2 separate regions of the Homo sapiens genome follow, and region 1 is linked to region 2. The links come from fine-mapping of genetic effects on gene expression. A gene starts in region 2. The other region holds a variant in brackets. All regions are shown on one strand. Distances are from middle to middle. Region 1 has its middle 87 kb from the start of EDN3. Region 2 holds the start of EDN3 (endothelin 3).

Evidence for each region. PIP is the estimated chance that this variant, and not a neighbour inherited with it, causes the effect. A credible set is the group of variants that fine-mapping cannot tell apart.
Region 1: its variant is the best candidate, but not a certain one, in a credible set for the expression of EDN3 in esophagus mucosa (GTEx, PIP 0.54).

The regions. Positions count from the first base shown.
Region 1 is chr20:59,385,803-59,390,184 of GRCh38, forward strand. No RefSeq gene overlaps it. Among named protein-coding and RNA genes, the nearest start is that of EDN3, 87 kb to the left of the region's middle. The variant G/C (reference allele first, on the strand shown) is at 2,558.
Region 2 is chr20:59,298,804-59,303,185 of GRCh38, forward strand. It overlaps EDN3 (endothelin 3), which reads left to right and starts at 1,808. Exons shown (of 5, transcript NM_207034.3): 1 at 1,808-2,061; 2 at 2,607-2,919. The coding sequence starts at 2,010.

The DNA of each region.
Region 1 (4,382 bases), 87 kb after region 2:
TTCAATTCAAGGGGCAGGTTCTCTCTCTCTCTAAGGGTCCCTGTAGACATAGGAGGGAGGGCTGGGGGTGAGTTCAGTAGGGAGGCTTCAGACAAAACCCAAAGAGATGAGCTAGTTTCCTTCCTAGTTAGCCTAGGTGGCCAGCGCCCTGTGGCCACTCGAGCACGTGTCTCTCCTCGTCTGCTCCAGCATGGGGCTGAGACTCCTGTTCCAGGATTGGGGCTGTCGCTGGTCTCGCGTTCCTTCTTCTTGAAACTCAGACAACCCACCCCAACCTGACCTTTGGACGTGCAGGGCATCTGCTCAGAACAGGTTGTCCTCTTAGCCTATTGTTCAACCTTGCCTGGTTGTCCCAAACCTTGAGCCAATCTCTGTAGCCTCAAAGAATCTTAGACTTGGGAGGGAGGGTGGCCCGGAGGACCTCATGTCCTGCATTTGGGGACACAGACACAATCACGGCCTAATTAGACACAACTTGGCTCCCCTTCCATAAAGCTTGTTCCGTTTCACTTCCACCTGTGCTATTTTCATGTTTGTTTCTAAATAAATTCACCTCTTAAAAACATTAAATAGATTTCTTTACGCAGGGTCAGAAGTGGGAAATCATTACTCCTTGCCGTATTTAATAGACGGTAACTGAAAAACAGAAACCAAGTGTTACTAGCTGGAGACCCTTGCCTGAAGAGGATTCCGAGCCTGAGTCCAGCTTTGTTCACAAGGAAGGTTGTGAGTGTTCAGGGCCTGTGGATATATTAGACAGAGATTTTTCCTGTCATCGTAATGCCACGCTTTAGCAAATTCTGACCAAGTGCAGCCCTTCAAACTCCAGGGGGGAAACTGAGACACCAGGTAGAGAAAGGAGAGACACCAGGTCAAAGGGGAGTCTGATAGCTGGGCTCAGACACCAGCTGGAGCTCTTCTCCACACCTTTCCATTTCACTCACCCCCTCCCTCTGTGCCTCAGTTTCCCTCCTCTCCATTAGTCCAGGCTCAATAGCCATACAGGTGGCAGTGGTGGGGATCAGGTGTCAGAGAGGAGCAGCAAGCTCTGTCTCAGCTCCATGGTGGTCATTGGGGGCCCTCCAGTCCTCTCCCTTTGGCTGATGATGGCTGTCTCCACGTGTCAGCCACAGCAACCCTGTCCCCAGACACTAGCTGCTGTTGGAAGAGAAACATGCAAATTCCATCCATTCTCCTCAAACACAAAAGGGAATGTTTAAACTGGAGCCAGTCAGGGGTCGGGGGTGGAGGGAGTGGCCTCCATGAGGAATGCATGATAAATCCTCTCGCCTGGCTTCTTGGCTACATGAACAGTTTTATTTTTTCTCCCAACCCCTCCCAATTGTCCTCATGTTGGGCACTGTTTTGTGTGCCAGAAGGACAGGGAGAAGGACAGATGATGGCCCCACCGTCCATCACAATTCTGGCAACGCAGAAGGCCTAGAGAGGAGGCTCGGGGGGGCTGGGGTGCAGGGCTCCAGGGTTTGTGGGGAAAGCTGTTTGGGAGTCACCACAACATCCATCATCAGCTGTCATGTGCATGCTGTTCCACCTCTCTGTTTATTTTCTGAGCATCTCCAAGAGCCTGGGACACCAGGACAGGGCATGGCGGGAGGAGATGTTTGTGTTTCTCCAAAGAGAGCTTACCGTCTTGTGAGGTAGCAAGAGAAAATGCTGAGGAGGTGCTGATCATCAGGTGGGAGCTCCCTGTTTTGGTTCAAGAGGGGCCATAACAAAGGGTACAGTTAACTGCAGCTGTGTAGTGACAGGATAAGGAAGTTTCCTTCTTTCCTTACAAAGACAGACTAGGCAACAACGCGAGACCCCGTCTCTACAAGAAAATAAAATAAAATAAATTAGCCGGGTGTGGTGGTGCATGCCTGTTGTCACATCTGAGGCTGAGGCAGAAGGATGGCTGGAACCCAGGAGTTCGGGGCTGCAGTGAGCTATAATGGCACCACTGCACTCCAGCCTGGGTGACAGAGTGAGACCCTGTCTCTAAAAAACAAAACGAAGAAAGAAATGCCCAAATGTCTCACCCCCTGCACATTTTTAGAGTGCTTCTCAGTTTTTCACTGCCAACTTGGTGTCCCTAATGGGTCTTGGCAGTAGGGATGGAAAGAAGGGGTGTGGGAAGTCAGTAAGAGAAGATAAATTGCCCCAAAGTTATTAATTCCATTAGTTCATAGGGCCATACCCCTTTCCTTTCTCTCCTGAGCGGCACTTCAGCTCGGAAGGTACAGGTAATCCCTTAAGTGCTTCATCAAAGAGAATAAAGAACATGGAGCAATCACTCCTTGGCTGAGATATTAAAAGAATAAATTCAGGTTGGGTGCACCACCTTGGTTGTCAAAGAGAGGCCATATATCACACCTAAAGGACATTCACCAGTGTCAAAAAGAACGAGCTGTCTTTCTCCCCAAGGGAAAATTGCCTGTGGTGGAGGGAGATTCATTCAACTGGGTTTTTGCAAGTCAGGTCAAGAAGAGGAGGGTGCGACCAGGTTGATCACATCTGAAATATGATTGGCAGACAGCTAAGTGACCTCGGTGAGAAG[G/C]GAAGTAAATTACCTTTTGGTTTCAGGTTTTCTGAAAAGCTGTGAGCCAGGCCCTTTGGCACAAAGTACATGCTAGGGGGTCACCTCCATCATGGGGAGCATCATCTGGGGCTGCTGGGGTGGTCAGGACCCTCACAGGGATGCCCCTACCTGCTCAGAGAGCTGCTGGCTGGCCCAGAATGGGCGCTGGATGCTGCAGATGCAGTTGTCAACACAGATGTCCGTCATCAACGCCTGCCTGCCCTGGAAGCGAGGTTGGCAGGAGCAGCTTAGGGTCTGACCTAGGCCTTCCCTGGGAAACCTACCTTCATCCCAGCTCTGGTCTGCATTTTCCACAACAACCAGAGACCCTTTCCAAACACAGCTGGGAGGCCAGGCATGGTGGCTCATGCCTATAATCCCAGCACTTTGGGAGGCCAAAGTGGGTGGATCCTTTGAGCCCAAGTGTTCGAGAGCAGCCTGGACAACATGGCAAAACCCCATCTCTATAAAAAAATAAATAAATAAAATTAGCTGGGCATGGAGGTGTGTGCCTGTAGTCCCAGCTACTAGGAAGGCTGAAGCAGGAAGATCATTTGAGCCTGGGAGGCGGAGGTTGTAGTGAGCCAAGATTGTGCCATTGCATTCCAGCCTGGGTGACAGAGTGAGATCTGCCTCAAAAATAAAAATAAAAACACGACTGGGCCATATCACGCCTTTGCTTGAAATCTCTCCCATGGCCCGTGACTTTTCTTAGGGATAAAATTCAAGTGAACTGTGAATGAGTTATAACCCCAATACTATACCATTGCCCCAGGAGTCTCCCACAAGACAGAAGACAGCTCTAGGAGTTTCCTGGGGGCTGCTGTACCAAGTGACTACAAACTGAGTGGCTTATAACAAGAGAAATGTGTTCTCTCACCATTCCAGAGGCCAGAAATCCAAAATCAAGGCGTCAACAGGGCCAAGCGCCTTCTGAAGCCTCCAGGAGAGGCTCCTTCCTGGCCTCTTCCAGCTTCTGGTGGCTCTGGGTGTCCTTGGCTGGTGGCCGCATCCTCCCATCTCTGCCTCCATCCTCTGCCTCCGTCCTCACGTGGCCTTCTCCTCTTCTCTGTGTGTCAGGCCTCACTCTGCCTCTCTCCTGCAAGGATGGCTGTCATTGGATTTAGGGTCTGGCAGGATAATCCAGGGTGATCTCATCACAAGATTCTTCACTTAATCACATCCACAAGGACATTTTCCCCATAAGGTCACAATAACAGATTCTAGGGATTATGATGTGGACACATCTTTTGGGGGTTACCATTCAACCCATAATAGTAGCTGGTTGTTTAAAGCTGGGGTCCCCAGGAAGCAGACCCTAGACAAGGCTTTGAGGGCAAGCAGCCGCTCTGGGAGGCAATCCCAGGTAACAGCCCTAAGACCCCGAGAAAGCGGTAGAGAGGAAAGAGTGAAGTAATGCTCTCAGCGCATCACAGCAGCGAGTGACCCAGGCTGGTTCTCACCAGGGGGCTCTGGGAGATGGTGCCGGGCAGGCTGTGGGGCAAGGAAACTGGGGTCTCATTCAACTCCCACCATCCTTGGCTCAGGGCTGCTTCTGGGCATGAGAACTCCATGGTGCCTCCAGTTATGGGAGATCCCAGAGGAGAGTCGCTGGTGTTCACAGAAGGACATTGTTGGAATGTTCTGGAACTGAGTGCCAAGGGCATATGGGCACGTACAGCAGCATCCCTGACCCCAGTCCTGGCGAACTCCCCTTTCTTTCTTCCTCCGGGCTCCAATGTCACAGGATGCTGCAGAAGCCCGTGTGGGCAGGACCCAGCCCAGATCCTCAGGGCTTCCCTGG
Region 2 (4,382 bases):
TTATTAAACACCGAATCTACCAGCACCTTGATCTTGGTTTTCCAGACCCCAAAAATGTGAAAAATAAAACTCTGCGGTTTATCAGCCACCCAGCTTATGGCGTTTTGTTATAGTAGCCCCAACAAACAAAGATAATACTAAAATGATCCAAATTCTAGCCCAGCAGGAACAGAAGATATTGTGAGTCTTGGGTTTTTCTTATTTTCAAAGCATCAAGTGCAAAAACAAACAAATAAACACTTGGATTCAAGGGCTAGGCAGGATGGGATGGGAGTGGGGGGATGGAGAACTTCAGCATCAGCTTCAGTGCTGGAAGCTTGAGTGCTACTCTAGTTACTGCAGCTCTGTACCAATTTACCCAGAGTTTAGTGCTGTAAAACAACCATTTATTATGCTCATGGATTGTGTGGGTGGGAAGTTCGGACAGGGTACAGCGGGACAGCTATTCCTCAGTTGGAAGTCTTGAGGGCTGGGAGCTCAAATCATCGGAAGGCACATTCACTCAGGTCAGTGGCTGACACTGGTGGTCGGCTGGGAGGCCTCGGTTTCTCTCCACGTAGGTTTCTCCAGGTGATCTCTCCAGGTGGGCTTGTTAGGGCTTCCTCCTGGTACAGCAGCTGTGTTCAGAGGACAGGTGTCCTGAGCTATCAAGCCAGGGGGATGTTGTAGCACTCTTTTGGACTGTCCTCAGAAACTGCTCTGGTCACTTCAGCTGCTTTCTAGTTTTCAGAAGCTGGTCGTTAAGGCTAGTAGAGGGCAGGACCCAATTCAACCCCATTTTTTAGAGATGAGGTCTCGCTATGTTGCCCAGGCTGGTCTTGAACTCCCAGGCTCAAGCAATCCATCCACCTTGGCCTCTCAAAGAGCTGGAATTACAGATGTGAAGCACTGCCCCTCCCCCAACCCCATCTGTTATGAAAGGAGGGTCCTTTGACCACAAGTGCCCTGAGAAGTCAGGAGGACTTCCCAGTCTCAGACATTTTTATCTGAGCTGGAGATGGGGACAGCCTCCCACACACAGGACTTGGAAGGCTATGAAGGAAGTAGGGGGCTCTCTTGGGAGGTCATTTCCCTTGGTAGGGACGGTTGTGTGAATGAACTTGGCCTTTAGGGAGAGGAGCCCGACTCTCACCTGAAGCCACCCAACCTGTGCAGATGGCTGAGGAAGCCCTGGACACCACAGGACCGCTAACCCAGGATCTTTGTTGACTTTGCTCCCAGGCCACTGCCCCACACGCAGGCTCTGAACTCCTGGGAGAGGTAGGGAGCCAGCCCGAGGCGTGAGTCAAGAGTGTAAAGTACACCGAGTTCCTTGGCAAGCAGGCTCTTCAAGGGGAAGGTGTCACTCGGGGAACAATGAGAAATGTGTCTTTCCCTCAGCCCCTGATAGAAAAGATAACACCCCTTGAGCACAGCCTTTTCTCATCTGTTCTTGCTCTTGGATGGGGGGCTGCTACTCCGGAGCGGCGAACTGGCGGGCGGGGGTGCGCCTGTGAGTGTGAGCGCGCGTGTGCGTGTGTGCGCGCGCTCTCGTGGCCTTCCGGCAGCTGGCAGCTGTCCCGGCCCCCACCCCACCCTACCCCACCCCACCCAGCCGCGCCACGCCACGCCGCCCCCGCCCCTCGCTGTCCTGGGTGCGCCTCGGGCCGCTGCGCTCCTGGCCAGCTCCCCCCAGCGCCTGGGAGGCGACCCCCAGTGCGCCCGGGTTCAAAGGCCCGGCGAGGCAGTTCCAGCCCCTCTGGGGGGCGGGGAGGCGACGGGGGTGGTGCAGAAGCCAGAAAAGCCCGAGCCACAGCCGGCCAGCTCCGCGCAGGGATGGGCAGCGCGCTCTGAAAGTTTATGACCGCCGCAGCCAACTCCTGGCCGGAGCTGGAGACGCAGCGAGCGATCGGCCGGCCTCGAACCCCCACAGCTGGAGGGCGAGGCCAGCTGTACCCGGCCCCAGTGCCCTTTCGCGGCCACAAGCGGCCGTCCTCCTGGTCCGGTGCTCCGGCGCCTGATCTAGGTTCATGGAGCCGGGGCTGTGGCTCCTTTTCGGGCTCACAGTGACCTCCGCCGCAGGTAAGCGCACGGGGCGGCGCGCCTCTCCTGGCGCGAGCGCACACAAAAGGACCCAGGGCGGGGGACCCGAGGCGCGGAGAAGATGTGCGTCGCGGGGAGCAAACTCTTGCCTGGGCTCTGCACTCGTGAAGACGCCTGGGGGAGGGCTGGGGAGCAGAAGCGGCGCGCAACGACTACCCGCACGGGCTCCGGGAGTTGCAGCCCGCGCACTGGCTGGAGACCTGCTGCCTGGGCCGACTTGGTCAATTTTTCATGAAACTGGGGACTTTTCAGAAAGTTTGCGAACTATTCAGAGGCTGTGCCAAACCCTGGCAAAGTTTGCAGAAAGTATGCAAAATGCATGCAAGTTTTCAACGGGTGCAGATAGCTTGCAAGCTTTTCACAGAGTGTGCAGATAGCTTGGAAACTTTTCAGAAACTGCGCAGAGCTTTGGAAACTTTGCAGACATTTTGCTTGCTCCACCCCCCTCCTCAGGTGTTTGGGGGTGGCGGGTGTTGAGGGGTCTGCACACTCAGCTTAGGAGCCCCTCAATCTGCCTTCTGCAGGATTCGTGCCTTGCTCCCAGTCTGGGGATGCTGGCAGGCGCGGCGTGTCCCAGGCCCCCACTGCAGCCAGATCTGAGGGGGACTGTGAAGAGACTGTGGCTGGCCCTGGCGAGGAGACTGTGGCTGGCCCTGGCGAGGGGACTGTGGCCCCGACAGCACTGCAGGGTCCAAGCCCTGGAAGCCCTGGGCAGGAGCAGGCGGCCGAGGGGGCCCCTGAGCACCACCGATCCAGGCGCTGCACGTGCTTCACCTACAAGGACAAGGAGTGTGTCTACTATTGCCACCTGGACATCATTTGGATCAACACTCCCGAGTAAGTCAGCCTTTTGTGGTGAGGAACGTGGCTCCCGGACCAGGCCCACATCTGCTCATTCCCAGGAGGACCTCACTCCACCCCAGCCCCGCTCAGTTAGCCCAGAGCCTGCCCTGGCACAGCCTTTAGCTCTTGCTGGGGCCTCTTGCCAGCCCAGGTCTCTTCTGCAGGTCAGGGGTGTGACCCACATCCCCCCTGAGGGCCTGGCCCAAGAGAAACTCAATCCTGAGTTTGATCCTGTGGAAGGAGGAGCCCTCCCTCTGAATGAAGTGAACTGACCAGGGGGATTAGATACCTGAGATGTCTCTCTGAGCCTCTTTTCTGAGATAGAGAAAGCCCCGAAAGTTTATCTCATTCCCCAGGGGCCAAGGGGGCTCATACTCACTGTTGACCCCACCAGGATCCAAGGGGTTTAAAATTCCTTGAAAGCATCCTGGTCTCCAGGGAGTCTAAGGGTGGGTTTAGCTGAGCCTGACAGAACCTGCACAGTCCACTCGGGGTAGAATTCCCCTGGGATGGGCTCCCTTCCTTCCTGTGGGCCCCCCTGGATGCCAAGGCAGGGTGAATTCACATCAGCTCGTCCTTGGGCCTTCCACAGGCTGGCTCCAGTCACCCACTGCCATGGTCACAGAGGGCCTTCCCTTCTCTCCTGCAGTCCTTAGAAACTCTCTTACCCTAGGGCCTAGACAGCACCATCCTGAATTTGTCTTGGGGTTCGTCCAGTGGGGAAGTCAGCCTTCTCCTGGGGCCATGTGGAGAGAGTGTGGCTCTGACAGGGGGAGGCTTTGATGACTCCCAGTGTTCAGGGAACCCCTCCTGCAGGCACATCATCTTGCAGGCCATACAGAGGGCTTGACCTTGCCTGGGTCACCAACTCTCTGGCATTGGCTTCCCCATCTCTAAGATCTGGGACTTGGATCAGACACCTCTAAGTTCTGTTCCCTGGGTGTTCATGGGATCTCTTGGGACTCTTGCTTGTACCCTATTAGGGATTCTTAGCTGAGAACTCAGAGATGGTTGTGAATGCAAGCCCCTGGAAGCCTGGAAAGGCACCTTTGCCACCGTGTCCCGGAGCCGTCTTGATTCAGGTTCCTCACGGTCACCTTTATCCCCAAGCCCCATAACCTCTGAGCCCTTGGTAGCAGCTTTCATGGGGCTCACTTACCTACCTTGTGTCATCGGCACCTCAAAAATGAAGTGCAGACGAGGGTAGTAAACCTGAGGGGTGGAATGTCTTTCAGACCAGGGGACAAGACCTCTAATCACATCCATGATAGATCTGGAACATCACCCCACCATGCTTGAAGGGCAGGCAGGGGCTTCACATTGAGCCAGCAGGACACGTGCACAAAGTCCTGCACTCAGAAAGACTCTGGCTCGGCTTAAAGTCCTGCTGTCACTGTCTTGAAATCCTTAATACTTTCTGAACAAAGAGCTGCACATTTGCATTTTCTCCTGGGTCC